2 linked regions of the Homo sapiens genome follow. The protein of the gene in region 1 purifies or fractionates together with the protein of each later gene. This does not show direct contact. Each region holds a gene or a part of one and is shown on either strand. Other genes may lie near its edges.

The links.
Region 2: the proteins of TECR (region 1) and HSD17B12 purify together in Homo sapiens (co-immunoprecipitation; 2 studies listed by BioGRID and IntAct, with this or other methods). This does not show direct contact.

What each region holds. Positions count from the first base shown.
Region 1 is NC_000019.10:14,551,945-14,566,679, forward strand, and holds the end of TECR (very-long-chain enoyl-CoA reductase), read left to right. Parts: intron 1-8,086; exon of another isoform or gene 8,087-8,447; intron 8,448-10,580; coding exon 10,581-10,631; intron 10,632-11,196; exon of another isoform or gene 11,197-11,229; coding exon of another isoform or gene 11,230-11,261; coding exon 11,262-11,313; intron 11,314-11,713; coding exon 11,714-11,758; intron 11,759-11,855; coding exon 11,856-11,959; intron 11,960-12,037; coding exon 12,038-12,153; intron 12,154-12,237; coding exon 12,238-12,343; intron 12,344-12,841; coding exon 12,842-12,914; intron 12,915-13,004; coding exon 13,005-13,048; intron 13,049-13,121; coding exon 13,122-13,179; intron 13,180-13,257; coding exon 13,258-13,346; intron 13,347-13,673; coding exon 13,674-13,719; intron 13,720-13,799; coding exon 13,800-13,927; 3' UTR 13,928-14,036; downstream 14,037-14,735. Other genes in the region: NDUFB7 (NADH dehydrogenase [ubiquinone] 1 beta subcomplex subunit 7), read right to left, coding at 14,189-14,321. UniProt on the Homo sapiens protein: Involved in both the production of very long-chain fatty acids for sphingolipid synthesis and the degradation of the sphingosine moiety in sphingolipids through the sphingosine 1-phosphate metabolic pathway.
Region 2 is NC_000011.10:43,671,034-43,687,614, forward strand, and holds the start of HSD17B12 (very-long-chain 3-oxoacyl-CoA reductase), read left to right. Parts: upstream 1-9,704; 5' UTR 9,705-9,794; coding exon 9,795-9,954; intron 9,955-10,069; exon of another isoform or gene 10,070-10,260; coding exon of another isoform or gene 10,261-10,324; intron 10,325-16,581. UniProt on the Homo sapiens protein: Catalyzes the second of the four reactions of the long-chain fatty acids elongation cycle. This endoplasmic reticulum-bound enzymatic process, allows the addition of two carbons to the chain of long- and very long-chain fatty acids/VLCFAs per cycle.

The sequences.
Region 1 (14,735 bases):
CCCTCTCTCTCTCTCTCTCTCTCTCTCTTTCTCTCTTTTTTTTTTTTTGAGATGGAGTCTCGCTCTGTCGCCCAGGCTGGAGTGCAGTCAGTGGTGCAGTCATAACTCAGCCTTGACCTCCTGGGCTCAAGCAGTCCATCTACCTTGGCCTCCCAAAGTGCTGAGATTACAGGCATGAGCCACCGCGCCTGGCCTTTTTCTTTTCTTTCTTTCTTTCTTTCTTTTTTCTTTTTTTTTTTTTTTGAGATAGCGTGTCTTCTGTCCCCCAGGCTGGAGTGCAGTGGTGCAATGATAGGTCACTGCAGCCTTGACCTCCCGGGCTCAAGCAATCCTCCCAGTCTGGCCTCCCAAACTGCTGGGATTATAGGCGTGAGCCACCGTGCCCGGCCTGCCTTTTCCTTTCTCTGTTGCACATAGCCCTGCTCTCTAGGATGGAGGCATTATTTTATTGTAGGAGCTTTGGGCCTGAGCAAGCTGGGTGGACACTCACATGGGCACTTCCAGGCTACTTACCTTGGGCGAGGGCTTCCTCGTTCCCAAGCCCCAGTTTTCCAAGCCACGTAACAGGCATCACAGTCTTTTTCTTTTCTTTTCTTTTCTTTTTTTTTGAGAGGAGTCTCGTTCTGTCGCCCAGGCTGGAGTGCAGTGGCGCAATCTCTGGCTCACTGCAAGCTCCGCCTCCCGGGTTCACGCCATTCTCCTGCCTCAGCCTCCCGAGTAGCTGGGACTACAGGCACCCGCCACCATGCCCGGCTAACTTTTTTTGTACTTTTAGTAGAGACGGGGTTTCACTGTGTTAGCCAGGATGGTCTTGATCTCCTGACCTCGTGATCCACCCGCCTCGGCCTCCCAAAGTGCTGGGATTACAGGTGTGAGCCACTGCGCCCGGCCCAGTCTTTTTCTTATAGGGCCTGGGTGAGGCCTGGGTGGCAGTCTCAGCATAGTCCTAGGTACAGGGTGAGCATCTGATAGATGTCACGTCTGAATGAAACGGGCGAGATCAGCGTCGCTCTGGGTGGGCCAGTGCTCCTCGGAGGCCCTGAGGGCACAACCGCAGGGATGGGTGTAGGCTGTGGGTACCACTGAGAATGGGGGGCAGGCCCAGGGCTGAGACCCAGGTTCTCCAACTTCCCACTGTGTTTGTCTTGTGCCATATTCATCCTCTATGAATGGCTGTGGCTGCTCGCCCAAGCCAGGAGCTCGTGCGTCCGATGACCATCTTCCAAGGCTGGATTGCTACCTGCTCGCTCGGGGCTCTGCTGGATGGGAACAGCAGCTCCAGCTTCTCCGGGTCCCGGGCTACCGCTGCCTCTGCACCTGGCCCTGGCCTCGGATCCGAGAGCCCAGAGACATTGGCATTGAGACCCTGGCACCTCTCGTCTTGCCAGCACAGGTAGAAGACAGGAGCAGAGCGGTCCAGGGACCTGGGAGTGGGAGGTCAGCCACTCTCAGCCCTTCCTCCCCACCCTGGGTGACATTCTGCTTCCACTGTGGCGCCTCGGGGAGGCTGGTGCAGCCGCCCCCGGGTGCCACTGAGAAACGAGGTCATACACTGAGGCCACTGGGGAAGGTGGTATTTCTGGCCGAGCAGGTGTGGCCTGTGCAGGGTTCCTGGCAGCTGAGCCCTAGGTCTTCTCAGCCATCCTGGCATTAGCAGGTTGACTTGATATTTCTGGAAGTGGGAAGGAAAGGGAGCCGAGAGGGCTGAGCCGCTGAGCCGGAGTCCAGATGAATGTGCCGGAGTCTCTGCATTTGTGATGGGGGCGAGGTGATGGGGGCGAGGTGGCCGGCGTGGCTCTGGGCATGATCGGGCCAGGCCTCCGACCTCTATGCTGGGCATTGGCTGGACAGGGAGCTCAGGCGATGAGTGCAGCAGCGCTTGTGCCCGGCGCGGGGATGGTGAGTGCCTGGCTGGCCAGCTGCAGGACCTGTCAGGCCCTTTGTGTCTTTACCTGGGGCCCTGGTTGCACTGACCAGGGCTCGCACCCCCAGCCAGGCCTCTTGTGCCCCAGACTCGGGAGATGCTTCCTACCAGGAAGTGCAGTCCCCTGCGGGGTCCGAGAGAGCCTGCCGGAGCTTTGAGCTCAACAGGTGGGCTGTGCGGCACCACATCAGCTCTGCAAGGGGGCCCTGGAGGCCCATGTGTGGTGGGGTATGGCCTGGCTTTCAACATGCACGCGTGGTCTTCTGGGCTCTGGGATTTACTGCTTAGATCTTGGCCTCTTCATCTGTGAAACGGAGCTAATGGCTCCTGCTCCCTCCGGCTGCTGCAGGAGAGATGTCTGGGAAGCTGTGGCAGTTCCAGCCCCGGGCAGGGAACGTGAAATAACTGTTGGTCGCTGTTCTCACTCATCACCATTAGGCAGGTCACGTCCTAGGACACACAGAAGTTTCAGGTTCATAAGCCATGGGAGATGAGGCCGGCCCAGAATCCAAGCTTCCCGCTCTGGCCCGGGTCTGCCCCTCTTCTGGGGCTGAGAGGGCAGGCAGGTGCCTTGCTGGGTCCTGTGGTGTGGACTCTGCCGCCAGCAAGGCCATTGAACCTGCTTGTTTACAGCCGGGAGAGGACTGGGAAGCACCAGTCTTGGCTTGTTTGTGAAGCTGGGGAAGCCGAAGCTCCAGAGGCCTTCTGTGCATGGCTGTGTGTGCCAGGCCTTCAGGCTGCGCCTCCAGGGGATGAGCAGGAATTGCAGGCTCAGCTCTTCCAGCCTTGGCTCAGGTGGTGCCTGCTCCTCCCTCCTTCCCTGTACCTCTCATCCCCACACCCACTCCACTCTCAGGCCACACCCACTCTTCACCTCCACATCTGTCCAGAATTTCACTGCTTGTCTCTGCCTTGTGCTTTTTTTTTTTGAGATGGAGTTTCACTCTGTCACCAGGTTGGAGTGCAGTGGCCTGACCTCTGCTCACTGCAACCTCCGCCTCCTGGGTTCAATCGATTCTCTTGCCTCAGCCTCCTGAGTAGCTGGGACTACAGGCGTGTGCCACCATGCCCAGCTAATTTTTGTATTTTTAGTAGAGATGGGGTTTCACCATGTTAGCCTGGCTGGTCTTGATCTCTTGACCTTGTGATCTGCCCACGTCCGCCTCCCAGAGTGCTGGGATTACAGGCGTGAGCCACTGCGCCTGGCCTTGTTTTTTTTTTTTTGAGACAGGGTCTTGCTTTGTCCCCCAGGCAGGGGTGCCGTAGTGTAATCAATCATGGCTCACTGCAGCCTGGAACTCCTAGGCTTAAGCGATCCTTCTGTCACAGCCCCTGAGGAGTAGGTAGGACCATAGGTGCGAGTCACCACACCCAGCTAATTTTTTATTTTTGTTTTTTGAGATGGAGTCTTGCTCTGTGGCCCAGGCTGGAGTGCAGTGGTGTGATCTCGGCTCACTGCAACCTCTGCCTCCTGGGTTCAAGCGATTCTCCTGCCTCAGCCTCCTGAGTAGCTGGGATTACAGGTGCCCACTGCCATGCCCAGCAAATTTTTTTGTATTTTTATTTATTCTTTTTTTTTTTTTTTTTTTTTTTTTTAGACAGAGCCTCACTCTATTGCCCAGGCTGGAGTGCAGTGGTGCAATCTTGGCTCACCACAACCTCCATCTCCTGGGTTTAAGTGATTCTTGTGCCTCAGCCTCCCAAGTGGCTGGGATTACAGGTGTGTGCCACCACACTTGGCTAATTTTTGTGTTTTTACACGGGGTTTTACCATGTTGGCCAGGCTGGTCTCGAACTCCTGACCTCAGGTGATCTGCCCACCTCAGCCTCCCAAAGTGCTTGGATTACAGGTGTGAGTCACCATGCGTGGACACAGCTAATTTTTATAAATACTTTTTGTGGAGGCAGAGCCTTGCTATTTTGCCCAAGCTGGTCTTGAACTCCTGGGCTTAAGTGATCATCCTGTCTCAGCCTCCTAAAGTGCTGGGATTCCAGGCGTGAGCCACTGCGCCCAGCCCACTTTTCACCTCTCTATAGCTCCCTCTTTGCTCCCAGCTTCTGCCCTCACTCCTCCAGTCTGTTCCACCCAGCAGTGGCAAGCAGGTAAAGCTGGGGAAGCCAAGTCTTGAACCTGAGCCAAGTCTCATCCCTCCTCTGCTCAAGAACCCTCTATGGCTGCCACTTCACTCAGAGTAAAAGCTAACGTCCTCCCCGTGGCCCACAAAGCCGTGGCACAGACCGCCACATCACCTTTCTGCCCTCACCTCCTCCCACTCTCTCCCTGACTCACTCTGCTCAGGCCACACAGGACTCCTTCCTGCTCAGCCACGCTAGGTATGGTCCAGCCTCAGGGCCTTGGCACTTACTGTTCCCTCTGCCTGGACTGCACTGGTTCCCCCACTGTCTACTGGCCTTTGTTCACACGCCACTTTCTCAGAAAGGGCTTCTCTGACCACTCTCAAATGGCCATCCTCTTGGAGGTTGCAGTGAGCCGAGATCGCGCCACTGCATTCCAGCCTGGGCGACAGCGAGACTCTCTCAAAAAAAAAACAAAAACAAAAAAAACCACATTGTGACCTCCCCCACAACCTTCTAGTTTTGTTCACAACTCTTGGTGACAAAACATGCTATGGCTATCTGCCCCCACCCCCTGCTTGCCCAGCACGCACAGGCTAGAATTCAGGTCCCATGAACCCCAGAGGCTGGCTTGGTTTTTTTCACTGCCATATCCCAGGAACTGGAACAGTGCCTGGGGTATGGGAAGGAGGGAGTCAGGAATGAATGAATGGATAAATGAATGCAGGCTCCCTGAGCTCTCTTGGCTGGTGGCAGGGCCAGGGTTAAGGTCCCATTCTGCACCAGAGCTGTCTCCGTCCCTGACATCGGCTTTGGGACTGTTCCTGAGCCGGCTGCTGCGGGTGCCCTTCCAGCAGGCGGGAGTAAGTCTGTGCGGCCACAAGGGGGCAGTGGGGAGCGTCGCAGCCTCCGCCGCTTGCAGCCAGTCATCCCGGTGGTGACGGGTCAGCTCGGCCTCTGCACCGAAAGTATCTCGCTATTGTTAGGGTTTGGGTTCACTGTGACCAGCTGGGCGAGGCATCAGTGCACCAGCTCTCTGGCCCTGGCTTCCTGTGGATGGGCCCCTTCAAGAGCATGGTCAGCGTCCCAGGAGAAGGGGCCTGTGGATCCTGCCAGGGTTTGGCCCCCTTGTGCACCTGGCATGGCTGTTCTGCTAGTGTTGGTCTAATCTTATTTATTTATTTATTTATTTATTTATTTATTTATTTATTTTGAGACAGGGTCTTGCTGTGTCGCCCAGGCTGGAGTGCAATGGCATAAACTCAGCTCACTGCAACCTCCACCGTCCTGAGTTCAAGCAATTCTCCTGACTCAACCTCCTGAGTAGCTGGGATTACAGGCACACACCACCATGCCTGGCTAATTTTTGTATTTTTATTAGAGACGGGGTTTCACCATGTTGGGCAGGCTGGTCTCGAACTCCTGGCCTCAGGTGATCTGCCTGCTTCGGCCTCCCAAAGTGCTGGGATTACAGGTGTGAGCCATAGTGCCCCGCCTAATCATATTTATTCTTTTTTTAAATTTTGAGATGGAGTCTTGCTCTGTCTCCCAGGCTGGAGTGCAGTGGTGCGATATCAGCTCACTGCAACCTCCTCCTCCTGGGTTCAAGCAATTCTCCTGCCACAGCCTCCTGAGTAGCTGGGATTACAGGCATGCACCACCACGCCTGGCTAATTTTTGTATCTTTGGTAGAGACGGGGTTTCGCCATGTTGTCCAGGCTGGTCTTGAACTCCTGACCTCAGGTAACCCGCCCACCTTGGCCTCCCAAAGTGCTAGGATTACAGGCATGAGCCACCGTGCCCGGTCATCATATTTATTCTTTTTTTTTGAGATGGAGTCTTGCTCTGTCGCCCAGGCTGGAGTGCAGTGGCGCGATCTCGGTTCACTGCAAGCTCTGCCTCCCGGGTTCGCGCCATTCTCCTGCCTCAGCCTCCCGAGTAGCTGGGACTACAGGCACCCACCACCGCACCCGGCTAATTTTTTGTATTTTTAGTAGAGATGGGGTTTCACCGTGTTAGCCAGGATGGTCTCGATCTCCTGACCTCGTGATTCGCCCGCCTCGGCCTCCCAAAGTGCTGGCATTACAGGCGTGAGCCACCACGCCCGGCCTATATTTATCCTTAATAAGATTTATCCTAAACTGGGGATGATTACGGTAACCCTGTCAGATGGCAGCTGGGGACAGCCCACTTTGCCATGAGTAGATGGAAGTTCAGAGAGGTTGGGTAACTTGCCCAGGGCCACACAGCCAGGAAATGGGCAGGTCTGCTTCTCTGGGTTGTTCACCCACCAGGCGGGCGGGTTCCCAGGAGCTGTGACAAGTGCTTAGACAACGAGAGCCCCCCTTTTCACTCCTCCTGCCCCCATTAGTAATATCTTCATGACCACAAAGACAGTGAAGACGGGCTCTGTTGCTTGCGGCACTCCCCTCTGGGCTTGGGAGGCACAAACCTCGCCCCTGCTCCCTCTTGCAGGGTGCGCTTCACGCCGCACCGTGTGTCCTGGCTCTTGGCTCTGCCCTGACCTCGTGCTGCGACGAGTTGCTGTTGGCTGGGCCCCGGGAATCTTGGGCCTCCTGGTGAGAATTCCTCTCAGGCTAGTGGAACTGTCATCACAGAGCCACAGGCCGGCAGAGCCACCAGCCTGTGCCCCAGGCCAGAGTGCCTGCCTGTCTGCCCGTTCCTGCCCTCTCCCTGCCCGTCGTGCCTGAGGCTATGTGGTCTCACCCCTTGCCCGTGGCCAGTGCTGGGACCTCGCTGACACCAGTAGCCCCCCTCCCACAGGTATCCCTTCATCCACCCAGAGCATCTCAGCCCCTCCCAGCCCCTCCGAGTGGCTCCGTGGGCTTCCTCAGAAGGTCCTGTCTGTCCTCCCTGCCTCACCGCTTCTCCTGGAGATGGGGCCAGAGCCTGCCACCTCCCCGTCTGTGCTCAGGATCCCCTGCCTGGGGCTCTGTTCAGCAGCTGCCTGTACCCTCTGCAGCCCTGGGCTTCCCCTGGGAGCCCCTGCCCCCTGTTGGCCTCAGGCCTGGGCAGGCGTGTGTGTGTGTGGCAGGCACAGAGCAGAGATTGGGGTGGCAGTGGGGTGTGGGGCGCGGAGCCCTCGATGAGGTCTCACATTAGGCCCTCCCTCTGAGGGGTGGGGAACCTCTCCTGCTCCTCCCACCCGACTGTTTTTATTTTGATGGGTATGTGGGGCCTGTTTGTTACCCCTCACCCCTTTAAACAATAATTTATTGAGGTGAAATTCATGTAACATGAAACTAACCATTTAAAAGTGAACAGTGGCATTGAGTGCACGTGCATCATTGTGCAGCCTCCACCTCTGTCTCGTCCCAGAACATTTTCCTCACTCTGAAAGGAGACCGGGTACCCAGCAGCAGCCACTCCCCATTCCCCCCGCCCAGCCCCTGGCCCCTCCAATTTGCTTTTCTGTCTGTCTGCTCTGGGTATTTTGCATAGATATGGGACCTTTGTGTCTGGCTTGTTTCCTAGCGTAACTTATTTCTTTTACCCCACCTGGAATATCTTATTTAACTTTCTTACTTAGAAATAATTATAGGCCGGGCCAGGTGGCTCACGCCTATAATCCTAGCACTTTGGGAGGCCGAGGTGGTGGATTGCCTGAGCTCAGGAGTTCGAGACCAGCCTGGGCAACATGGTGAAACCCCATCTCTCCTAAAATACAAAAAATTAGCTGGATGTGGTGGTGTGTGCCTGTAATCCCAGCTACTCTGGAGGCTGAGGCAGGAGAATCGTTTGAACCTGGGGGGCGGAGGTTGCAGTGAGTCAAGATCGCACTGCTGCACTCCAACCTGGGCGACAGAGTGAGACTCTGTCTCAAAAAAAAAAAAAAATTATAGAGACACAGGGAATTGCAAGAATAGTATGGAGAGGTCTCCTGCTCCCCCCAGAGCCTTTCAGTCCTCTCTCTAGGAGGAGATGGCCGACGAGCTGGGGATTTGGGGCAGGAAATGGGAGACGGACGGCCGTCCCACTGAGGACTCATCCTGCCCAGGTGGCCCTAGCCTTGGGCATTTCTTGTCTGTAGGGGCCCCTAGGTGCTGCCTTGCAGCCCGGGCTTACCTCCTTGCAGGTTTGGGCGTCTCCTCTCCTTGGGCCTCAGGCTGGCCTGGGCACCACTGCTGCAGCTGTGAGCGTGGCCCCTCTCTCGCTACCCCCTCCTGCCGCAGCCCGGCGTCCTCTCCCAGCAGCTAGCCGGGACCCCGATGGCCGTACTCTCCCTCTTGGGCCCTGGTTTGGTGCCCAGGTTGGGGGGAGCAGGGTACGATTTCACCCCTCCCACTAGCAGCTGGCTGGACAGGGAGAGGGGCTGGTTGTATTTTAAGCTGTTGAGTGGTTCAGCAGGAACTCGGAGGCCTTCTCTCCCTGTGGACGCTAGGCTGCCTTCCTACAGGCCACACGGGCTTGGAAGCATGTGGGCACTGCCTGCCTGGGGCCCAGGAACTATTAATATACCTGCAGCCACAGGGCAGGCCCCGTGCCCGCCCAGGGCCCTGCTGTGCTAACCCTTTCCCGTGGATCCCGCCCCGTGTCCTCTGTCCCTATCCTACATATCCCCTTGGTGGGGCCCAACGTCCTGCGTGGTGTGACCGAGCTCTTTTTTTCTGGCCCCTCCATGTGCCAGCTCTTTGGCCTTGTTATCGCTGTGGCTTGGAGGAGTTCAGTAACCTTCCCCTAGAGGCCACAAGGCCAGGCAGTGCCTGGAGTTGACAGCAGGGACTCAGGAGGCCCCGTGGGCCAGGATTTCCTGGCTGCTGGGCCCATTCCCACCCTCCTGTCCAGGAAGTGGGGGCGAGTGTGTCATGGCTGGGGAAATAGGCCCCCATGCTGTGGTGACTGCCAGGCCAGCAGGGGAGTGGGGATCTGAACCAAACCCACGGGCAACAATGCCTCCTATCCCATGGGGTGCCTCCCATCTGTCAGGGGTCACCTAGTGTACCCCATGCATTGTCTCAGGGGACCGTCACAGTCCTGGGAGGTAGTCTGCTTCCTACCTGCCCCCTTCTGAGGCCTAGAGAGAGGTGACATGCCTGGGGTCCCCCAGGGACTACAAGGCAGGGCTGGTTACGGTTCCCGAGTGCAGGCCACCAAGCCCCCTTGTCTCCCGCTGTCGTTGGGAATGTGCAGGAGGGGTACCCAGCTTCTCTGGCTTGACCGTGGTGCCCTCATCTTCAGGATGGGCCCTAGCTGCCGTGGCCCGGTCTCCCTGGGCTCTGGGTGGGTGGGCCTGCCCTGGGATGGCCCCAGCCCAGAGGTTTGTTTCTGAGCATTGTGTCCTGCTCCTTTTCCTCAGGCAGCCTCTGGGGGCCCCCGCTGGGTTTCTGTGGGTAGGAAGGGTCCCCCAAGAATTGCTGGCTGGTGGCTGACTTGGGATCAGGCCTGCCTGCTTGCCACGACCCCTGTATAATAGGATTGCACTGACCCCTGCATAGGGTGGGTCAGATCCCCGGGGGCTGCCTCCCTCCAGCCCTGCCCCTCTGCACCCCCATCGTTCATCACTGGCCTGGGGGCTCAGGGAGGGCTGGGCCAGACTCCTACCTCAGGGGCTGGCACAGGCCTGGCTCTTGGACGCAGGAAGCGCCGGGCTTTAGTGGGGCGCAGGTCCTGGGTGAGGGTGCAGTGTTTGGGCTGACTCAGTGGAAAGCCTGCCCCACAGGTGGCTATAAGGTGAGAAGTGGGTGGGGAGGAAGGTTGGGGAGACCTCATCAGCCCAAGCTGGAGGCGGTTGCCTAAAACTTCCACACACCCCGATCCTTTCCACACTTCGAGAGAGGCTCTCTGCACCCATAACTCCAGAATCTGTCACCTCCCTGGTAACACAAATGCACAAGGAAAATAATCCAAAGTGTCTCTTACAGCTCAGAAGGGGAAATGGATGATCTGTCTCGCGGATTCTCAAAATAGCTGGGATTTCTCCAAGCCCAGTGAACTCCCTAGGCCTGAGCTGCGGGCTGGGGCCTGCACGGCCCGCTGGCCTCTCACTCTCCTCTAGCCACTGGCTCTGTGCAGGGCGGGGGCTGGGAGGTGTTGTCATGCCTGCCCCTGGGGCTTTCCCTGTGCTGGTGCCGTTGAGGGTTTTGAGGTGACCACTCAAAAGCTGCTTTCAGGGCAGCCTGGCTCCCCGGGGAGACTCCCAAGCCCCCCTCAGAGAAGGTCTGTGGCATGGCTCCTGGGGGGCGCAGTCTGGGGTGGTTTTATATTTAGCTGGGCTGTGGCTGTGGTTGCCACTCGGGTTACATCTGGCACAGAAGTCGGCAGTGCCAGGGCCGGCACGGGCTCCTTTCCAGCACCGCGGCAGAATTTGATCGCGCTTGCCCGGCCCAGGGCTGCTTCCCGTGGGGAGGTCGGTGGTGGGGGCTGACGGCCGGCAGCTGGGGCTGCTGGCCACCGTGGGCAGAGCCGAGTGGCAGGGCTGGTGGCAGGCGGCATGGACTTGAACTTGAGCTTGTTGGCCCGGGAGGCCACCCCAGGCCTCCTCCCTGGCCTCAATGGGCTCCCCAGGCCCACACCCCCAAAGGTGGCCAAGAAACCTAAAAAGGCTGTTCTCTTCTTCGAGGTGGAGATTCTGGACGCAAAGACAAGGGAGAAGCTGTGTTTCTTGGACAAGGTAGGACTGGGGCGTGGGCTGCACTGGGCCAAGGGCACTGGGCCCGGGACCCCAATCCTTATAGCCCAGGAGCTGTCCAGTGGGGCCCTTTGTGCCCCACCCCCTGCCCTATGGAGGGGTATGCCCTCACTTGGGGTAGGGTGGATAGCCATGTCCCCTGGGTGTGGCGGGGAAATGGAGGCACAGGAGTCTCAGTGGACCCTGCGGGGATTTTGGTCCTGGGAGGGCGGTGGAGGAGTGAGCCTTGCCCCTGCTGAGGCCGGGCCTGGGGGAAGGGGCTTGCGCTGTCCCTGGGGAGGACAGAGGGCCTTTGCTCCTGGGAGAGTCATGGGTGAGAAGTGGAGAGGAGGGGCAGAGAAGCAGGCTTGCCTTCCCATGCTTAATCCGCCACTAGCCGGGCTGGGGGCCTGCTGGCTGAGGGTAAAAGTGGAGCCCCAGACCCCTGCTGTCACTGCACTGGCAGGGCCCTCGGTGGTCCTTCCCTGACTGCAGGCAGAGGCCTGGACCCCAGCCCTTCCCCCTTCCCATAGCTACAGCCCAACCCCCAGCCTGCCATCCCCTTTAGTACCTCCCCATCCTGAGTCTGGGCTCCCCGCAGAGCTGACGTCCCTGCGCCTGTGCTTCCCCCAGGTGGAGCCCCACGCCACCATTGCGGAGATCAAGAACCTCTTCACTAAGACCCGTGAGTTCTAGTCCCGGCCACACTGCCCCTGCAACCCCTTTGACCAGGGACCTTAGGGTGGGAGGGATCCCATCCTGCACCCCTCTCCCAGGGGCCTGCAGAGATGCCCCAGTGTGGCCCAGGCTTCTGGGGCGTGACTGGGGCAGGCGCCTCCACGTGGCACTCCGCAGGAACGCCCTTGCTAGGCTCTGGGAAGGACAAGATCCTGCTTCTGCCCGCGCTCTTCTGGCTTGTGTCCTGAAACCGCACAAGCCTGAGGGTTTGCCCCCAGGTGGGAGGAGCTGTGGAGTCCTGGGGTCCTTGCACCCTGGGAACCCTGAGAAGCTGGCACAGTGGCTGGGCAGCGGACCGGCTGAGCCCTGCCAGGCTGTGGGCTGTAACTGCCCTGTTCTCCCCGCAGATCCGCAGTGGTACCCCGCCCGCCAGTCCCTCCGCCTGGACCCCAGTGAGTACAGCTGTCCACTCGGCCCGCCCCCTGGGCTCCTGGGTGGCAGTGGGAGAAGGCCCGGGTAGCCCCTGAGCCCTGGCCCGCCTCTCTGCAGAGGGCAAGTCCCTGAAGGATGAGGATGTTCTGCAGAAGCTGCCCGTGGGCACCACGGCCACACTGTACTTCCGGGACCTGGGGGCCCAGATCAGCTGGGTGACGGTGAGTCCTGACCCTACCCACGGCCTCTTTTCCCGTCAGCCACGTTGGGTGACTCATCTTGCCCCCCTCTACTCTCAGGTCTTCCTAACAGAGTACGCGGGGCCCCTTTTCATCTACCTGCTCTTCTACTTCCGAGTGCCCTTCATCTATGGCCACAAATATGACTTTACGTCCAGTCGGCATACAGTGGTGCAGTAAGTGGGGCAGGTGGGAGGAGGGTAGGGGAAGGCAGAAGACCTGCCGGACCAGCCCCAGCTGAGCCTGCTCCCCCCGACCAGCCTCGCCTGCATCTGTCACTCATTCCACTACATCAAGCGCCTGCTGGAGACGCTCTTCGTGCACCGCTTCTCCCATGGCACTATGCCTTTGCGCAACATCTTCAAGGTGAGAGCCCGTCCCCGCCTCACCCCTAAGCCCCGCCTTTCTGCCCCACCCCGCCCCGCCCCCACCGAGCCCCACCCCAAGGCCCTTCCTGTCTGCCACTACGCCCCAGCAGAGCCCTACCCCTAGGCCCCGCCTAACCTCCCCAGCCCCGCCCTCGCAGAGCCTCTAGACCCCGCCCGTCCTCCCCAGCCCCGCCCCCGTCGGGCCCCTAGGCCTGCCTATCCACCCTAGTCCCACCCCTAGGCACCGCCTATCCCCCCAGCCCCGCCCCTGCAGAGCCCCGCCCCAGTTTCACCCCTAGGCCCCTCCTGTCCACCACGCCCTCACAGAGCCCTGCCCTAGCCTCACCCCTTGGCCCCGCCTATCCTCCCCAGCCCCGCCCCAAGGCCCCTCCTGTCCTTTCCCACCATGCTCCCAGGCCCCTCGGGATGAGACATGGGCAGCATCTGCCTTGTCCGGTGCTGGCCCAAGTCCCATCCCTGCCCTGCTCCCTTTCAGAACTGCACCTACTACTGGGGCTTCGCCGCGTGGATGGCCTATTACATCAATCACCCTCTCTACACTCCCCCTAGTAAGTGGCCTCAGACCATCCTTCCCTCCCCCACGGTCCCCACCCAGCGGGTCCTCCCCTCATGGGCTCCCCTCCCTGCTTCCTCTTCAGCCTACGGAGCTCAGCAGGTGAAACTGGCGCTCGCCATCTTTGTGGTAAGGAGGCTGGGTGTGGGGACGGGGTCGGGGGAGTCTGGGCGGCCCTAGGCTGATCCTGCTTCTCTGACAGATCTGCCAGCTCGGCAACTTCTCCATCCACATGGCCCTGCGGGACCTGCGGCCCGCTGGTGAGTGCCTGCTGGGGGCAGGGGGACAGCTGGGCTGGGTGAGGGGGTCTGACTTTCTCCTTCTGTCCTGCCTGCCAGGGTCCAAGACGCGGAAGATCCCATACCCCACCAAGAACCCCTTCACGTGGCTCTTCCTGCTGGTGTCCTGCCCCAACTACACCTACGAGGTGAGGGGCTGCCTTACCCCTCTCTGCCCTGGGACTTGGGGTCCCATGTGGAGGGACCAGCCCCTAGGATGGGGCGCCTGGCTGGGCAGCTGCTTTTGCCGCCTGCACTGCGAGCATTGGGAGGTGGAGACCGCGGCCTCTCTGCTGTGGTGGCGGGGAGGCGTGTGCCGCTGGGCTTCCGCCGTATACAGCCCCGCCTCCGCTGGAATTGGGTTCCCATCCCTGACTCAGAAAGCAGGGGCGGCGGGAGGTGGCTGGCTGAGTCCAGGACAGCCACATACACGGGTTGCGAGGCTGCCCACGCTCACTCTCCGCCCCTGCCCACAGGTGGGGTCCTGGATCGGTTTCGCCATCATGACGCAGTGTCTCCCAGGTGAGCCTGCCGCCCTCCCTCGGCGGGGCCCTGCCCCTCCGGGCCGGCAGCCCCTCCCTGACGCCCGTTCTTTCCTGCAGTGGCCCTGTTCTCCCTGGTGGGCTTCACCCAGATGACCATCTGGGCCAAGGGCAAGCACCGCAGCTACCTGAAGGAGTTCCGGGACTACCCGCCCCTGCGCATGCCCATCATCCCCTTCCTGCTCTGAGCGCTCACCCCTGCTGAGGCTCAGCCCCTCAACCCGGTGGCATTCTGGGGGAGGAGTGGGGCCCACAGCTCTCCAGCACCCGGAATAAAGCCCGCCTGCCCCAGTCGGACTCGGGCTCTGTGTGTTTCTTTCCGGGGTTGGGGACCACCACACTGCCCTTCACTCTCTCCCCACTCTCGCGTCGGAGCAGTAAGAGGGGACTCTGGTTGAGGGGCCTGAAGGCTTTTATTTGACTGGTCCATAGGGTGGGGGGTGCACCCCCTACAGGGCCACCTTGGGGTCCACTTCCCCGGGTCCCTGGCCTTTGGCCAACTCTGCCGCCTTCTTCTCCCGCCGCTTCTTCCGCTGGAGCAGCCTCCGCTCCCGCTCAAACTCCTTCATGCGCATCACATAGCTGGGGGAAAAGCACGAGAGGGGCTGTCAGGGTCCCTGGCCAGGACACGCCCCCCAAGCCCTGGGAAGCGGAGGGGCCGTCCCAGAGCACTGTGGGGGAGGCCTCTGAAGAAGACATGTCCGAGTGCCTGTGGCTTGGGTCTGGGGTCTGCCCACGCAGGTGGCAGGGCTTCCCACTGGAACCTGGGCTTGGCCACTCCCCTAGGTGGCTTCAGCCACCTGCCCTGTCCCCATCAAACAGGCCCCTAGAGAGCCCTCTCTGGGACTAAGGTGGGGCCCGGCTAGAAACCTCAGTGGCAGTTCAGGTCCCTGGCCTCTGGAGCCACATCCTGCCAGGGGCCAGGCCTGGGTGGGGTGCAGGCTGTGGGTGTTGGCGGGGGTGGGAGGGGGGCTTGGGCGGGCTGGGCATGTGGGG
Region 2 (16,581 bases), on another chromosome or scaffold:
TAAAGAAAACCTCCTCAAATTCCGCTATATTATTTGCCTTAAGTTTGCTTGCATAACTGTCCTACAGTTATGCTGGAAATATGATGTAGGTAAGATATTATGGTTTACTTTCCCTTTCACATGGTTTTATTTTATTTATTTATTTTTTTGAGATGGAGTCTCACTCTGTTGCCCAGGCTGGAGTGCAGTGGCGCCATCTTGGCTCCTGGGTTCAAGCGATTCTCCAGCCTCCACCTCCCAGGTTCAAGTGATTCTCCAGCCTCAGCCTCCCAAGTAGCTGGGATTACAGGCTTGTGCCACCACACCCAGCTAATTTTTGTATTTTTTAGTAGAGACGGGGTTTCGCCATGTTGGCCAGACTGGTCTCAAACTCCTGACTTCAGGTAATCCGCCAATTTTGGCCTCCCAGAGTGTTGGGATTACAGGCATGAGCCATCGCACCTGGCCCCTTTCACACGGTTTTAAACTGGTTTGTTTACCATGGCACTAATTCCTTTCTTTAAGCGAAAGTATTCTGAGTAAGATTGATGGAACAATTATTAGATCTGCTGATGCAATAAAGAAAACCAGTTAATGTGCAATATTGGTATGTCAAGATTTCACTATGATATTTTTAATCATATATTATTGAGTGGAGAAAGAAAGTTGTTGAATTATTTTTGCATAATCACAGCTTTTACTTCTAAAAAAGTATATATGTATATGTTGTGTATATTATATAGCTTCATACTTAGAAATGTCAGTGAAAAGAAAAAGAAATGGAAGAATACAGTACAAATTGCCAACTGTTAGTGGGAATAGAAAATGGGGTGGGATGCTTTTTCATTTCATATAATTCCGTGTGCTTTTGAAACTAAAAAATAAGTAAAATGTTAAAACTATATTTTCTAATCACTTGTTTCAAAATGACTGATTTCAGCTTTATTTGGGAAATATGTTTACAGAAGACTATGAATGTGAGTCTAAGTTCTGTTATAAAATAGGTGGCAGAGTAGAAAGAGCCCTTCTTATTTTTTATTTTTTATTTTTTTTAGAGACCGAGTCTCGCTCTGTCGCCCAGGCTGGAGTGCAGTGGCATGATCTCGGCTCACTGAAAGCTCTGCCTCCCGGGTTCACGCCATTCTCCTGCCTCAGCCTCCCAAGTAGCTGGGACTACAGGCGCCCGCCACCACGCCCGGCTAATTTTTTTGTGTTTTTAGTAGAGGCGGGATTTCACCGTGTTAGCCAGGATGGTGTCAATCTCCTGACCTCATGATCCGCCTGCCTCGGCCTCCCAAAGTGCTGGGATTACAGGCGTGAGCCACCGCTCCCGGCCTAGCCCTTCATTTTTAGTGAAGACATCTTGGTTCTAGAAACAGGCCTGCTGCACTAAAGTAGTCCGTATGCAAGAAGGTTAACTTAAAGAGTTAATTTCCCTGTTGGAAAAATGGGGGTGTTATTGTGATGTTTGAATGGGGTAATGTATGTGAAGTGACTTTGAAGTTGATATTGCAATATTAAAGCATAATAGGTGTTTTTGTTTGTTTGTTTTTAAGATAAAGTCTCACTCTGTTGCCCAGGTTAGAGTGCAGTGGTGCGATCTTGGCTCACTGCAACCTCCACCTCCTGGGTTCAAGAGAGCCTCAGTCCCCTGAGTAGCTGGGATTACAGGCGCCTGCCACCACACCCGGCTCATTTTTGTGTTTTTAGTAGAGATGGGGTTTCACCATGTTGGCCAGACTGGTCACAAACTCCTGACCTCAGGTGATCCGCCTGCCTCGGCCTCCCAAAGTGCTAGGATTACAGGCGTGAGTCGCCGCACCCTGGCCAATAAATGTTAATCTTCCTTTCTTATGGTAATATTTCTTGTTAAATAAATTAAATATTAACTTTGGGAAACCTCCCAATTTCTAATGCTTAAGACTCAGTTTCTTTTAAATTGGTTTGTTCATCACAACACTTTTTCTTTTTAACCCAGGATTGGACAACTGAATTTAAAGGCAAGTTAAAGTTCAATATTTTGAACAATGTTTAAATCAAGATGAGCGAGAAGACAGAACTGTTAAAAGGTTTTATTTTACAGCCAAGTGAAGGATTCAGCTATGTCCCAAAGGATTAAACAAGATGGTATGCTTAATAATTCCTCGCTTCTATGAAACTCCCTGATTATGAAGTGTACTTTCATTCTATAGAACTACTCCTGATTTCATCAGGAAACTCTGATCTGAAACTCAATTTACAGAAATATTAAAAATGAATTTTCGACTAAATGGGAATATTTGTATACTAATATGATACAATATTGTTGCTTCATTTTTTTCATATTAAATACTATTCTAAACTCTAAATTTGTTAATAAATGAAGCAGAAATCTAATGTGATTACATCTGAGTATTTTATTTGTGTAATAACAAAATATTTCTAGAGACTCTTCTACTCTCCTTTAGTCTTTTTCTTTTCTTTTCTTTTCTTTTCTTTTCTTTTTTTTTTTTTTTTTTGAGACAGGGTCTCACTTTGTTACCCAGGCTGGAGTTCAATGGCGCAATCTCAGCTCACTGCATCCTCCGCCTCCCAGGCTCAAGCAATTATCCTGCCTAGCCTCCCAAGTAGCTAGGACTACAGGCATGCACCACCAAGCCCAGCTAGTTTTGTTTGTTTGTTTGTTTGTTTGTTTGTTTGTTTGTATTTTTTGTAGAGACAGGGTTTCGCTATATTGCCCAGGCTGATTTCGAACTCCTGAGCTCAAGGGATCTACCCAAAGTGCTGGGATTATAGGCATGAGCCACGGCACCCAGCCTTTAGTCATTTTTTAGATGCTGCTTTCTCTGAGCTAGTTCTGGAGATATGATTTCATAGTCACACCTTTTTGGTTCAAATTCCAATTCTTCCACTTACTAGCTTTAAGCTTCTGTTTCCTCATTCATAAAATGGGGTTAAGAGTAGTACCTACCTCACTGAACACTTAATATCTATCTGCCAATCACTGCTAAATGCTTAAGTAGTATTGTTCTCATTTTACAGATGTGGAATTTGAATGCATAATAATTAAATCTATACAAGATCATACAGCTAATAAGAGGCAGAATCAGGATCTGGTTCCAGATTTACCTGACACTAAAGGCCAGAGTTTTATCGTATTGCCTCTTCTTCGGAGAGCTATTAGTCACATGTTTGGTTAGTATGGCTCTACTAACCCTTCATTAGATGTTAAATTTCAGCACAGAATACTGCTGAATAGGAGTGGGTCATCATTATAGGGTCCTGTATGCATTAGAGTTTACTGTGGTTCGTAAAATTTATTCAGCGACAAAGGATTGTTGAATTCCAAAAGTGTGTGACCACCTGAACTCCAAAGGGCTATCTGGCATGTACTGCTTCACTTTGTGGAAGTCGCCATTTTTTCCCTTAGTAGATAAAACAATTAGTATTCCTAATTCCTAAAAAGAGGCTGAGGTGATCAGAATAAATGTGTACATTTTAAATAACGATTATTCTATTAATTGCATGGGTAGTGCCTAGGCATTTTAGAAGAGGAATGCATACCAAAATGAGATGGTTTCAGTCTTTAACATTCCTTTTCATTAAAATAACTAAATTCCAACAGCAATGGAAATTCCATTTCCAAAGTACATGTGTTTATTTTAAATAGCCCTACACCAACAATTATTGCCTATTTAATTTTATGCCATATGCTGTGATAGTTGCAAGAGGCACAGATGTGTATTCTTCAAAACCACATCAAAGCCTTCATTCCGGTGTTGATTGCTTTCTCCTCTACCACACCCTCACTCAATTTCTGCATTTTCTCAGATCCCAGTTCAAATATGGGTTCCTTAGAAAGGCGTTTCAAGGCTGTTTCTTTTCCCCCACCTAAATTAGGTCCTCTTGTTAACCTCTTTCCTTATGTCCTATTATTTTCTTCTTTGTACGTATTACAATTTTTATCATATAATTAGTTGGAAGTTTGCTGAATGTCTGTCTCTCCCACTAGACAATCTATTTTCATTTATTCCTTCATCACCCATTCAACAGGTATTTATTGCATACCAAGTGTCAGGTACTCTTGGGTGCACATCTTAGCTAAAGATACAGTGGTGAACAAGAAAAGTTCACTGTACTAATGAACTTACATTCATTCTATTAGGTAGATGGACAAAGACCTAGTAATCAAACAATTTGAAAGCATTATGTTCTGTAAGGAAAACAAAGTAAGATAAAAGGATAAGGATTGCTAGAGCAGAGGATAAAGCTATTTGGGAAAGTTATGAAGGGAGGTCAGGGAATACCATTCTAAGGGGGATGACATGTGAACAAAAGCCTAAATAATACAAAGGAGTGAGCCTTGGGAAGATAGTAAGAGGTTCCAGGCAGAGGGAAGTGGAAGTGTAATAGAACGACTCTGAGACCAGAATGAAATTGACTTATTTGAGGAACTGCAAGGAGTTAGTGTGGCTGGAATCAAGTGAGCACAGGAGAGGGTGGTCCGTGTTGCCGGAGAGGTCAGGGCAGACAAACTCAACTTGGAGGATTTTGTTCTTAATGTGATATAAAGTCCTTGAAGGGATTTGAGTAGAAGAAAATGATATCTAATTTACTTAAAAAAAAAAAAACCCTCTAGTTGCTACATGGACAACAAACTCCAACACAGGCTTTAGGGAGACCAGTTAGGAGGCTATTGCCATATTCCAGGCTAAAAATGCTTGTGATTTGAATTAGGTTAGTAGTGGCCAGTCAAGATATATTTTGGAAGTAGAGTGAATAAGACCTGCTAAAGAATTGGATATGGAATGTAATGGAAAGAAAAGAATCAAGGTTCAGGCCTGGCATGTTGGCTCATGCCTGTAATCCTAGCACTTTCGGAGGCCCAGGCAGGCGGATAATTTGAGGTAAGGAGTTTGAGACCAGCCTGGCCAACATGGTGAAACCCTGTCTCTACTAAAAATACAAAAATTAGCTGGGCATAATGGCGGGCACCTGTAACCCCAGCTAATTGGGAGGCTGAGGAAGGAGAATCACTTGAACCTGGGAGGCGGAGGTTGTAGTCAACTGAGATTGCGCCATTGCACTCCAGACTGGGCGGTAAGAGCGGGAAAAAAAAGAAAAGAAAGAGTTAACATTCATCCCTAAGTCTTGGGCCTTAGAAAGGGGGTAAATGATGGTATCATTAATAGAAATAGGAATGAAAAGAGGAAGAGGGTGTGTGTGTGTGTGTGTGTGTGTGTGTATGTGTTAAGCGTAGAGTTCTATTCTAAACATGTTAAGTTTGAAATGTTTATTTTATATCTGAGTAGAGATGCGAATAGGCAGGTGGATATATATACTGTATAGAAGTCTGGACCTCTAAGCAGAAGTTGAGCCTGGACAGAGACATTTGGAAATAATCAGCTTACAGCTGATATTTAAAACCAAGGGACTGGATAAAATCATATATTAGAGACGTAAAGAGAGCTGGGGTCTGAGCCTGAGGGCACTGTGTAATTTAGAGGCCAGTAAGAGAAGGGGCCAGCAAAGGACACTGAGAGGAAAGCAGTGGCCACTCCCTGTTGAATGGTAGAGTAGGGTTAGGACTGAGAATTGCCCATTTGCTCACTATTTTATACCTAGTACCTAGCTCAGTGGACTGGCACATAATTAGAACACAATAATATTTGTTGAATGAATGAATCTTCACTTCTGTTTATTTCTTAGATATTTGTTGGGGTACCCTAGGTACCAGGCACTGTTTTAGGTCCTATGGATTCACAGCATAGTGTTCCCTATAATCATAGATTCTAGTGGGGGCCACAGACAGACATATGCAACAAAAAATATGTATTGTTAGTTTATAATAACTGTCTTCTCCCCCTTCCACCCTATTCTAAGGAGAATGGGACTGAATATCTAGAGGGTGCCTTGTTGGTGAGCAATGATGAGCTGGGATATATAAATTTGGGGATATAGCTATACTGTAGGCAAAGATTTGGGGAAGAGGGAGAAGTTGAGGACGAAGAGTGGTGGGCCTTTAGTTGAACTGAAGAGGCAGCCCCAGCCAAAGGTACCAAATTCAATTAAAATAAAATATGATGTCAGCTCGACTCACATGGCTGAATTCTGCAGGGTAATTGATGGTTTACATTTACAGCCTTAGGGTTAGACCTAATTAATCTGATAAGAGAATGGAGAAGGGGGGGTTTGGGCAGCAAGAAATAAGGCTCAAATTGAATCTTATCAAACTATGAAGTTAGCTGCAAGGTATGTTGAACTGTTACCCTTAGAATTATTATCCTTAAGTTCTTGCTTTACAAAAAACACTCAAGTCTTGAATCAGCAGCCCCTACTGGCTAAGAACAAATTTTAGGTACCTTTCTGAGCCCAAATCCATGCCAGAGAAGGAAACAAAAACTCTTGAAGGAAGGTAGAGAGTAAGTGTGAAGCACTTTATTGTTTTACACAATTTTTTTAAATTATACTTTAAGTTCTAGGGTACATGTCCACAATGTGCAGGTTTGTTACATATGTATACATGTGCCATGTTGGTGTGCTGCACCCACTAACTCGTCATTTACATTAGGTTTATCTCCTAATGCTATTCCTCCCCACCCCCCCACCACCCCATGACAGGCCCCAGTGTGTGATGTTCCCTTTCCTGTGTCCAAGTGTTCTCATTGTTCAATTCCCACCTATGAGTGAGAACATGTGGTGTTGGGTTTTTGTCCTTGCGATAGTTTGCTGAGAATGATGGTTTCCAGCTTCATCCATGTCCCTACAAAGGACATGAACTCATCCTTTTATATGGCTGTATAGTATTCCATGGTGTATATGTGCCACTTTTTGTTAATCCAGTCTATCATTGTTGGACATTCGGGTTGGTTCCAAATGTGAATAGTGCTGCAATAAACATACGCGTGCATGTGTCTTTATAGCAGCATGATTTATAATCCTTTGGGTATATACCCAGTAATGGGAAGGTTGGGTCAAATGGTATTTCTGGTTCTAGATCCTTGAGGAATCACCACACTGTCTTTCACAATGGTTGAACTAGTTTACAGTCCCACCAACAGTGTAAAAGTGTTCTTATTTCTCCACATCCTCTCCAGAACCTGTTGTTGCCTGACTTTTTAATGATTGCCATTCTAACTGGTATGAGATGGTATCTCATTGTGGTTTTGATTTGCGTTTCTCTGATGGCCAGTGATGATGAGCATTTTTTCATGTGTCTGTTGCCTGCATAAATGTCTTCTTTTGAGAAGTATCTGTTCATATCTTTTGCCCACTTGTTGATGGGGTTGTTTGTTTTTTTCTTGTAAATTTGTTTGAGTTCTTTGTAGATTCTGGATATTAGCCCTTTGTAAGATGAGTAGATTGCAAAAATTTTCTCCCATTCTGTAGGTTGCCTGTTCACTCTGATGGTAGTTTCTTTTGCTGTGCAGAAGCTCTTTAGTTTAATTAGATCCCATTTGTCAATTTTGGCTTTTGTTGCCATTGCTTTTGGTGCTTTAGACATGAAGTCCTTGCCCATGCCTATGTCCTGAATGGTATTGCCTAGGTTTTCTTCTAGGGTTTTTTATAGTTTTAGGTCTAACATGTAAGTCTTTAATCCATCTTGAATTAATTTTTGTATAAGGTGTAAGGAAGGGATCCAGTTTCAGCTTCCTACATATGGCTAGCCAGTTTTCCCAGCACCATTTATTAAATAGGAAATCCTTTCCCCATTTCTTGTTTTTGCCAGGTTCATCAAAGATCAGATAGTTGTAGATGTGTGGTGTTATTTCTGAGGGCTCTGTTCTGTTCCATTGGTTTATATCTCTGTTTTGGTGCCAGTACCATGCTGTTTTGATTACTGTAGCCTTGTAGTATAGTTTGAAGTCAGGTAGTGTGATGCCTCCAGCTTTGTTCTTTTGGCTTAGGATTGACTTGGCAATGCGGGCTCTTTTTTGGTTCCATATGAACTTTAAAGTAGTTGTTTCCAATTCTGTGAAGAAAGTCATTGGTAGCTTGATGGGGATGGCATTGAATCTATACATTACCTTGGGCAGTATGGCCATTTTCACGATATTGATTCTTCCTATCCATGAGCATGGAACGTTCTTCCATTTGTTTGTGTCCTCTTTTATTTCGTTGAGCAGTGGTTTGTAGTTCTCCTTGAAGAGGTCCTTCACATCCCTTGTAAGTTGGATTCCTAGGTATTTTATTTTCTTTGAAGCAATTGTGAAGGGGAGTTCAGTCATGATTTGGCTCTCTGTTTGTCTGTTATTGGTGTATAAGAATGCCTGTGATTTTTGCACATTGAGTTACAAGACAGGGATGCCCTCTCTCACCACTCCTATTCAACATAGTGTTGGAAGTTCTGGCCAGGGCAATCAGGCAGGAGAAAGAAATAAAGAGTATTCAGTTAGGAAAAGAGGCAGTCAAATTGTCCCTGTTTGCAGATGACATAATTGTATATTTAGAAAACCCCATCGTCTCAGCCCAAAATCTCCTTAAGTTTTACACAATTTTTTAAACTTACCTTGTGATCTTTCTCCTCTGCAACTTTGCTAACGTAGTTCCCATGCCTCTATCTGGACTTCACACTTCTGTGCCCCCTGGAAATACCACTCCCCCACTCCCCAACCAAAAAAGGGAAATTTAAAAAAGAAAGTAAAATTTTCTATCCCCCTTTGAAGACAAATTAAAAGATATAGTCTCCTTCCAAAACTAATTGTTCAGCAAGCTGTGTTCCTATATTTTTCATTCACCATACAGCTCTGATGCCATCGTCTAACAGTTATTAGACTCCATCAGGTTATTTGCCTTGAACCCCAAATCGTTGGGAACTAAGTGATGTTTAGTGCTCAGCTGGGAGGGAGGTCTGGCATTTAAGGGCTCTCTATGAGTGAGTGTAACCCGGGCGAATGCCTGCAGCGAGGAAGGCACAGACACAGAAGACTGCAAGCCTTTATCTGGAAAAGTTTATGGCAACAATGACAGCACGCTTAACAATGATATATTTATTATATAATTATATCATATATGTAAAATATATATTTATTTAATAAAGAGTTGAAAATAAAACTGTGGCTCCACACCTATTTCTTTTCTTTTTTTTTTTGTTTTTGTTTTGGGATGGAGTCTCACTCCGTCGCTCAGGCTGGAATGCAGTGGCGCGATCTCGGCTCACTGCAACCTCTGCCTCCCGGGTTCGTGATTCTCCTGCCTCAGCCTCCCGAGTAGCTGAGATTACAGGCGCACGCCACCACGCCCGGCTAATTTTTGTATTTTTAGTAGAGACGGGGTTCGGATGTTGGCCAGGCTGGTCTCGGACTCCTAAGCTCAAGCGATTCGCCCGCCTCGGCCTCCCAAAGTGCTGGGATTACAGGTGTTAGCCACCGCGCCCTGCCTACGCCCACTTCTTACTATAATCTTTCCATTCACTAGCGGCTTCTCTGATCCCATTTCCTCTTCGAACCTGAGCTCAAACCAGCCTGGGTCTGACCGGCCAATCCGAGCGCAGTCTTCCGCAGTCGCGAGTACGGCTGCAGCCAATGAGAGACCGGGGCGCCTCGGTGGGGTGAGACAGGGCGCTCACTGGCGGAACCCCGGGGGACGCGGTGATGGGAGGAGTGTGGGAGGGGCAGTGGAACTGGAGTCAGCTAATGGCTGACGCACTACGCGCAGAGGGAAAGACGGGTCACCAATAGCGACACGGATATGGCCCCGCGGGCGGGGTTTAGGCCCAAAGTGGTGTCGGAGCAGCGCCTATTAGTGTCATCCTCACCGTCACGGCCGGCGCCTCCTCCTGGATTCATTCACTCGCTCTTTTCATTCACGAAGGTAGTGAGGCCTAGTGGAAAGCCATGGAGAGCGCTCTCCCCGCCGCCGGCTTCCTGTACTGGGTCGGCGCGGGCACCGTGGCCTACCTAGCCCTGCGTATTTCGTACTCGCTCTTCACGGCCCTCCGGGTCTGGGGAGTGGGGAATGAGGCGGGGGTCGGCCCGGGGCTCGGAGAATGGGCAGGTGAGTCGGATGCAGCGCCGCGTCCTCGCTCCCGCGGCGGCCCGGACCAGGCCTGGGCCGTGATGACTAGTTCTGGGGTCTGCTCCTGGCCTTCCCCTCCCCAGCTCTCCTCTTTCTCAGGCTCCTGTGCCCCGCGGGCCCCTCCTGGCTCCCTTGGCTGTCTTCTGCTTGCTTAGACTACTTGCAGAGTTTTAAGGTACGAAATACACTGCTCGCTCAATCCTGGGAATCTAAGCTCAGCTTAGGGTGTAGGAGAAAACTGCCTTAAGTCTCTGGGGCTTGTGCCCTTTAAGCCATTCCGTGTTCATGGAGCCAGTCAGTCGCCCTGCTGCCTCCTCAGTCACACGCTGTCCTCCTTGGTTCGCCCCTTGTAAGTGTTTTTAAAATAAAGTTTTTCGCTCGGTTTGAATATTGGCCCTGTGCTAAGGATGCAGAGCATTCTGTTAACATGTTTGGGCAGAGGATGGAAAGGGGTGTAGGGACACAATTTCAGAAGGCTTTTTGCACTGCGGAATCGTACCTCCCCAGTTACGATTAAGATAGTAATCGTATCTGGATTTGGCCTATTTCATACAATTACAAAGCCCCTTTAAAAGGAATTCTCGCTAAACTGTTCTGGAGTCCTAACGAGTAGCAAGAACTATTGCTTCTGTAAAATGATAACTCATCATGTTAAAATCAGATTTTTTTTTTTTTTTCACAAGGACGTTTGTAGGAAAAAGTATACCCGTAAAGAGTGAACCAAACACATGGAACTTGTAGTCGGAGGATTTTTAAAATGGAGGACGAAGGTCAGGTTGAGGAAATAGGGAAAATTATCTGCAGGGAAGTTTTGCTCCCCCCCCCCTTTTTTTTTTCTTTTTCAACCTATTTTGTTTCCTTCTTTGCTTTATTTTTCGTCTCTTGGCCTTTTTTCCCTTTAAACCGAGTGATTACTTATGATATGCTTGTGGTCCTACCCTGAGATGATTATTTATTTTGATGTTTTATAATCGAATGTGCACTTCCTAAGCATTTTATTGAATTTTGGGGTGGTTAGGCATTGCCTGCAGACTGGGCTCAGGTAAGATACACTAATAATGTTACTCCATGTTCTTTGTTTATTTAGAAACATTTAAACAACCTAGTAGGAAAGACATATGTTAACCTTTTGGGTTTATGTTAACATTAAGAGAAAACATCTTAGCAGTGGATATGTATGTGAAATCTTTGGACGATGTGGAGCAACATTATAATTCTGTTTCACAGTCACCTGTTTCTCTGAAAAAGGAAGTGAAATGTTCAGCTGGGTGTGATGGCTCACGCCTGTAATCCCAGCATTTTGGGAGGCCGAGGCGAGTGGATCACAAGGTCAGGAGTTTGAGACCAGCCTGACCAACACGGTGAAACCCCGTCTGTACTAAAAATACAAAAATTAGCTGGGCGTGGTGGCGCGCCCCTGTAGTCCCAGAGGCTGAGGCAAGAGAATCGCTTGAACCCAGGAGGCGGAGTTTGCAGTGAGCCGAGATCATGCCACTGCACTCCATCCAGCCTGGGTGACAGAGCGAGACTCATCTCAAAAAAAAAAAAAAAAAAAAAACAGAAAGTGAAGTATTCAACTTGGTTATAATTAAGATTATGATTTCCCAATTGACTTGCCCACATTCTTCATTGTTAGTTTTGGAAAACCTGTTTGAAGACTTTTGACTACAAAAGACTACAAGATTTTTATACAAGATAAAAATTAGGGAATTGTATCAAGATAAAATTTGTAATTGGTAAGCAAAGACTAATGTTAATAACTTGTTGTTTTCTTTTCTTTTCTTTTTTTTTTTGAGACAGGGTCTCACTTTGTCACCCAGGCTGGAGGGCAGTGGTGTGGTGGTGTGATCATAGCCAACTGCAGCCTCGAACTCTTGGGTTCAAGTGATCCTCCCATGTGAGCCTCCTGAGTAGCTGGGACTACAGGTGTGCATCACCACACCAGCTCATTTTTTTTGTTTTTTGTAGAGACAAGGCCTCACTCTGTTTCAGAGGCTGGTCTGGAAGACCTGAGATCAAGCAATCCTCCTGCTTCAGCCTCCCAAAGTGCTGGGATTACATGTGTGAGCCACCATGCCTGGATGTGTTTTTTTTTGTTTTTTTTTTTTTTTCTCTTTAAAATTGACCATATTGGTTGATTATTCAAATGATAAGTCCAAGTCATCTACATATGAGTGTACAGTAAAAGGCAAGTGATGTAACACCATAAGTAACATTTGTGTTGAAAAGATTTGGCCCCAGAGGAAGGATAATTGATAAATTAAGGGAAGTATTTGTGTAAGATTTAGATATGAAATTTGAACTGGAACACTGGAACAGCAGAGGATCATAGTATCATAATTGAAGTGAAATGCTGACAGGTTCAATTTACCCTGGGTTTTGGATTTTTTTTTTTTAAATGCTTAAGCAGAAGAAGTGATCTTAAAAGAAAATACTCCCTTTATCTTCAAATTCTGGGACTCTTCAAAAACAAAATTAAGAGCAGCTCATCTTAAACAGGTTCTTCACATGAGTTGGAGGGGTGAACTGAAATAATTTGAAAAACAAACTAGCAGAGATGACACTTGAATAATTAGAGTTGTGATTAAAAATATTGTTCCACCAAAGTTATGATTTTAGAATTGTTGTATGTAAATAGTACTAGTAAGTTTTTTCCCTACGAAATTACTATCTTAATCTCAAGAGTCTCTGTTCTTATGCAGCCTTTGAATCTACTTTCTAGTACTAATATTTAATATTTTCCTCTTTAAAACCAATTATATATTTTAAGTATTTTATTAGTATATGTTGAATTGATACTATATTTTTATTCTTGTTATTCTTAGTCTCTTCATGTGAGTATCTTCATGTGAGTATGTTTAATCTGTCTGCCTCAGATTTTAGGATCTGAGGGGCAGAAAGCGTGGATTCTCACTTTTTGTCTTTTCTCACAAATTGGCTCTTCTAAATTTAAGAACAAAAACTTTGAAAAACTTGAAATACAGGTATGCTTCACAATCAGTAAAATATTCTAGATAACAGTTTCCTTAGTGTTGTTAGGCTTTCAAGACTGTCCATTACTTGGCTGGCCCACACTCTAATTTATCTCCATCTCCTGGTCAAGAGCTGGGCCATCTCTTTCTCCTAGTTCTCACCAGTAACATTCCCACTCAGGTGAATCCCCTGTGTTCCCTATACCCCTAGAAGGTGGGTTTAGCCAATTTAGTAAGTAAGACTTCTTTGTCATTGTTACCCGAATACTTCCTGTATTTCTTAGGAGAACAAAAGGAGATCCTGTGAATGTGGAGTTTCAGGTGTTTGAAGGTCAGTGTAGCAAGTAATCAAAAAAAGATTGATAACAAAGGTGGTCAGTTTGTATTAAATAAAGGAAAGAACAGTCACTGCTATAGAGCAATAAAAAATGTGATCTGTAGAATGTGGTTTGACCATAAATACATTTTGCAAGTATTTGAGTAGTTTCCATTGCTGGAGTTCATCTAAAATGATTGCTATTGAAATAAAGTGGAGATGATAGATGCAAAGGCAAGGTAAGTAGACTTCCAATGTCAAGATATTTTATAACTTTAAACATAAGACAGCACTCTGAGCACTTATTTTTAGTTTTTAATGAAGAGGATATTGTTACACGCAGTGAAGAATAAATGATCCACTAATCAGTTAGTGAGTTAGATTTTTTAAAACAACTTTAGTGGGATATAATTAATATACCATACAATTTGCCCATTTAAAGTGTACAATTCAAGGTTTTTACTTATGTTCACAGGGTTGTGCAACCATCATCAAATCTAATTTCAGAACATTTTCATCTTCCTTAAAAGAAATGCTGTACCCATTAGGCCCTTCACTCCCTGACCCCCACCCGCTCCAGCCCTAGTCAACTACCAATCTACTTTCTGTCTACGTAGGTTTGCCTGTTCTGGATATTTCATATAAATGGAATCATACAATAGGTGTTCTTTTTTGTTAGTGGCTCTTTGATTTTTGCATAATGTTTTCAAGTTTCATCTATGAAATCTGTACTTCATTTTGTTTGTATTGCTGAATAATATTCTGTTTTGTGGAGTGAGGTCAGATTTCACAAAAAAAGTCTTCAACCCTTTGTTCTACCCTCTGGATGTTTACATTAGCAAATCTCTAAGATGTAGCTTCTGGTTGCTGATGGAACTCGTTTGGCTTTGCAGTATTCCAAGGTTCTCCTAATTCAGTAGATAGTGAGGACTTAAAAATGGCATGGAATGGTGTGGTTCTCCTCTGGAAAAACCATTCATGAAAACATGCATCAAAGGATTCTCAAAATCACAGGTATAATCACAATTTCTGTTTTCACATTGGTTAACTGCACAGGGTTAACCTCAAATGACTGAAGAATACTTGTGTAACTAGAGCTTATTAATAGTAGGTGTCTTTCTTTAACAAGAGTTTGTGATATCACATGATTTGAAGAATTATATATGAAATGTTAGTTATTTAAATTGACAACCCAGAAGAAATATTAATAACTATCATTTATTGAATGGGTGCTTGAAATGTGCCAGGAACTTGAGATTATTTTTAACCTCTTTGAGCTGTGCTCCGTTGTCCCCAGTGGACAGAGGAAGAATCAGAGGGTTTAGTAAATTGCTTTCATTATCTATGGTTTCATAGCTATTAAATTGCAGAGTCAGGATTTGAAACCAAGTCATCCGTTCTGCAACATTCGTACACTGTATGTTGGTGATGGGCCTACAGACTGGATGAGTACTCGGGAGTAGATTTCTTTATACCTACAAACTTTATTAAAAGCTTTTTGATTGAAGACACACTTTCACTTTTTAAAATTTAAATTTTTGTTTTATTTTTAAGAACAATCTCAGACCAAAAAAAGGCACAGTTTCAAATTTGCACATTCATGATTTTTCTGGAAGGATTGCAGAATAGTTGGCACATTTTGGGATCAAGTAGCTTGGGATTTTCTTCAGATTTGCAACCATAAATCTTGTCGTATGAGAAAATACTGGAAAGTTACTAAGGTGCTTAACAAAGCAAAGGGTTTGACAGTCATCAGAATGGTGGGATTTGACTTCGAATGCTATTTTCTGTTTATCGCTCTGGCATTCTTGAATGGATTTAGTGACTCCCTGGAGGTCCAGCTTGGTAAATGTCATATGCTTGCTGTTGACATTCTAGTATTGGGGTATAGATACCTGTTCTTACTGGCGAGCCAATGTTGATCGCAGTAGTCATTACATGGGTTATGTTTTTCGCAGAGGCAGGGAAGGTGAGGGAAGGCAGAGAAACAAACTTAGTCATAAATGTTTTTGAATATTTGTTTATTCTGCCCTTTGGCTCCCGAAAGGGAGTACGTGTGCCTAAATGGAAAAAGTTCTGCAGATTAAAGTTGGCAGGGCAACTTTCAAGTACTAGTGCTGGAGTCTACATAAGAGGAAACAGATGCAACTGAAGATTGGACCTAAAAGCATACCTTTATTTGATTTGGAGGAAAAACCAAAGAGGGAGGTTTCCTGGGATTACAGATCCTGAGTTTACATTCCCTGAATATCTTTTTCCCTCACTCCCCTCCCGACTAGCCCCCATTGCTCCCACCCTGTTTTTTTTTTTTTTTTTCCTGTTCTTTCTTTCTGTGCAACACTAACTTTCCTATTTAGAGGTCAAACTTGAACTTGGAGACCCAAACCTAGACTTGAATTCTAGCTTCCCTACAGATTTCATAGGCTTATTGTGAAGGGTAAATGAGAATACTTATTCTCTGTAAAACAGATAGTACATAAGTGCTTGATAACTTGTTATTATTATAGTATTATTAGCCTTAGTAGCACTGTGCTCTGATTACCTGAGCTAATTGCCAGGGTAGGGTTTAGAAGAAAGAGTTGATATCTGGGTGACTACATTGTCAGATAACTGAGATTACCATTGCTACTTGCAACTGAGAGTGTTGAGCTTTAAAACTAATTTTTTGTTGTTGTTGGTTTTGGTTGGTTGAATTGAGGATAATTTATTTCTTTCAGTTTCAGAAAAATTTGTCAGATTTACATAACAAAATTTATAAGTTTAGAATGCATGGGTAAACGGATTTGAATAGATCAGTTTCAGTGCCATTAAAAGCTATTTGTAGATAAGGATAAGTTAAATGTATATTTTAAAAACAGTGCATCCTTTATTTCATTTCCCTTCTTGTCACTCTTAGCAAAACAACATGTAGCAATTCATATGCATGTCATCTGGGATGGATTGAGATTAAGGTTAGGGAGGCAGGGTGAGCAAAGCCCTCACTGGGCTTGGTGGAGAGTATGACATAACACTATTCATTTGCCCATTTATCCACCACAAATACTGTTGAGTGCTAACTATAGACCTTATAATAGTCCAATGGGATGACAAACAGTAACAAAATGAATAAACTGTGCTATGGTAAGTGGTGAGAACAGGAAGTATTTGGTCCTATGAGAATTTGTGAGGGAAAGTTCTAGAGCTGTGCTGGGGAAGCAGTGCCTCAGCTGAGATCTGGCGGTTGAGTGTAAGTGAGCAAGCTGGAGTGACAGGAAGGGCAGAGGGAAGAATGTTCTTGGCAGAAGGAAAAGCAGTTGCTAAATTCCTAGGGCAGGAAAG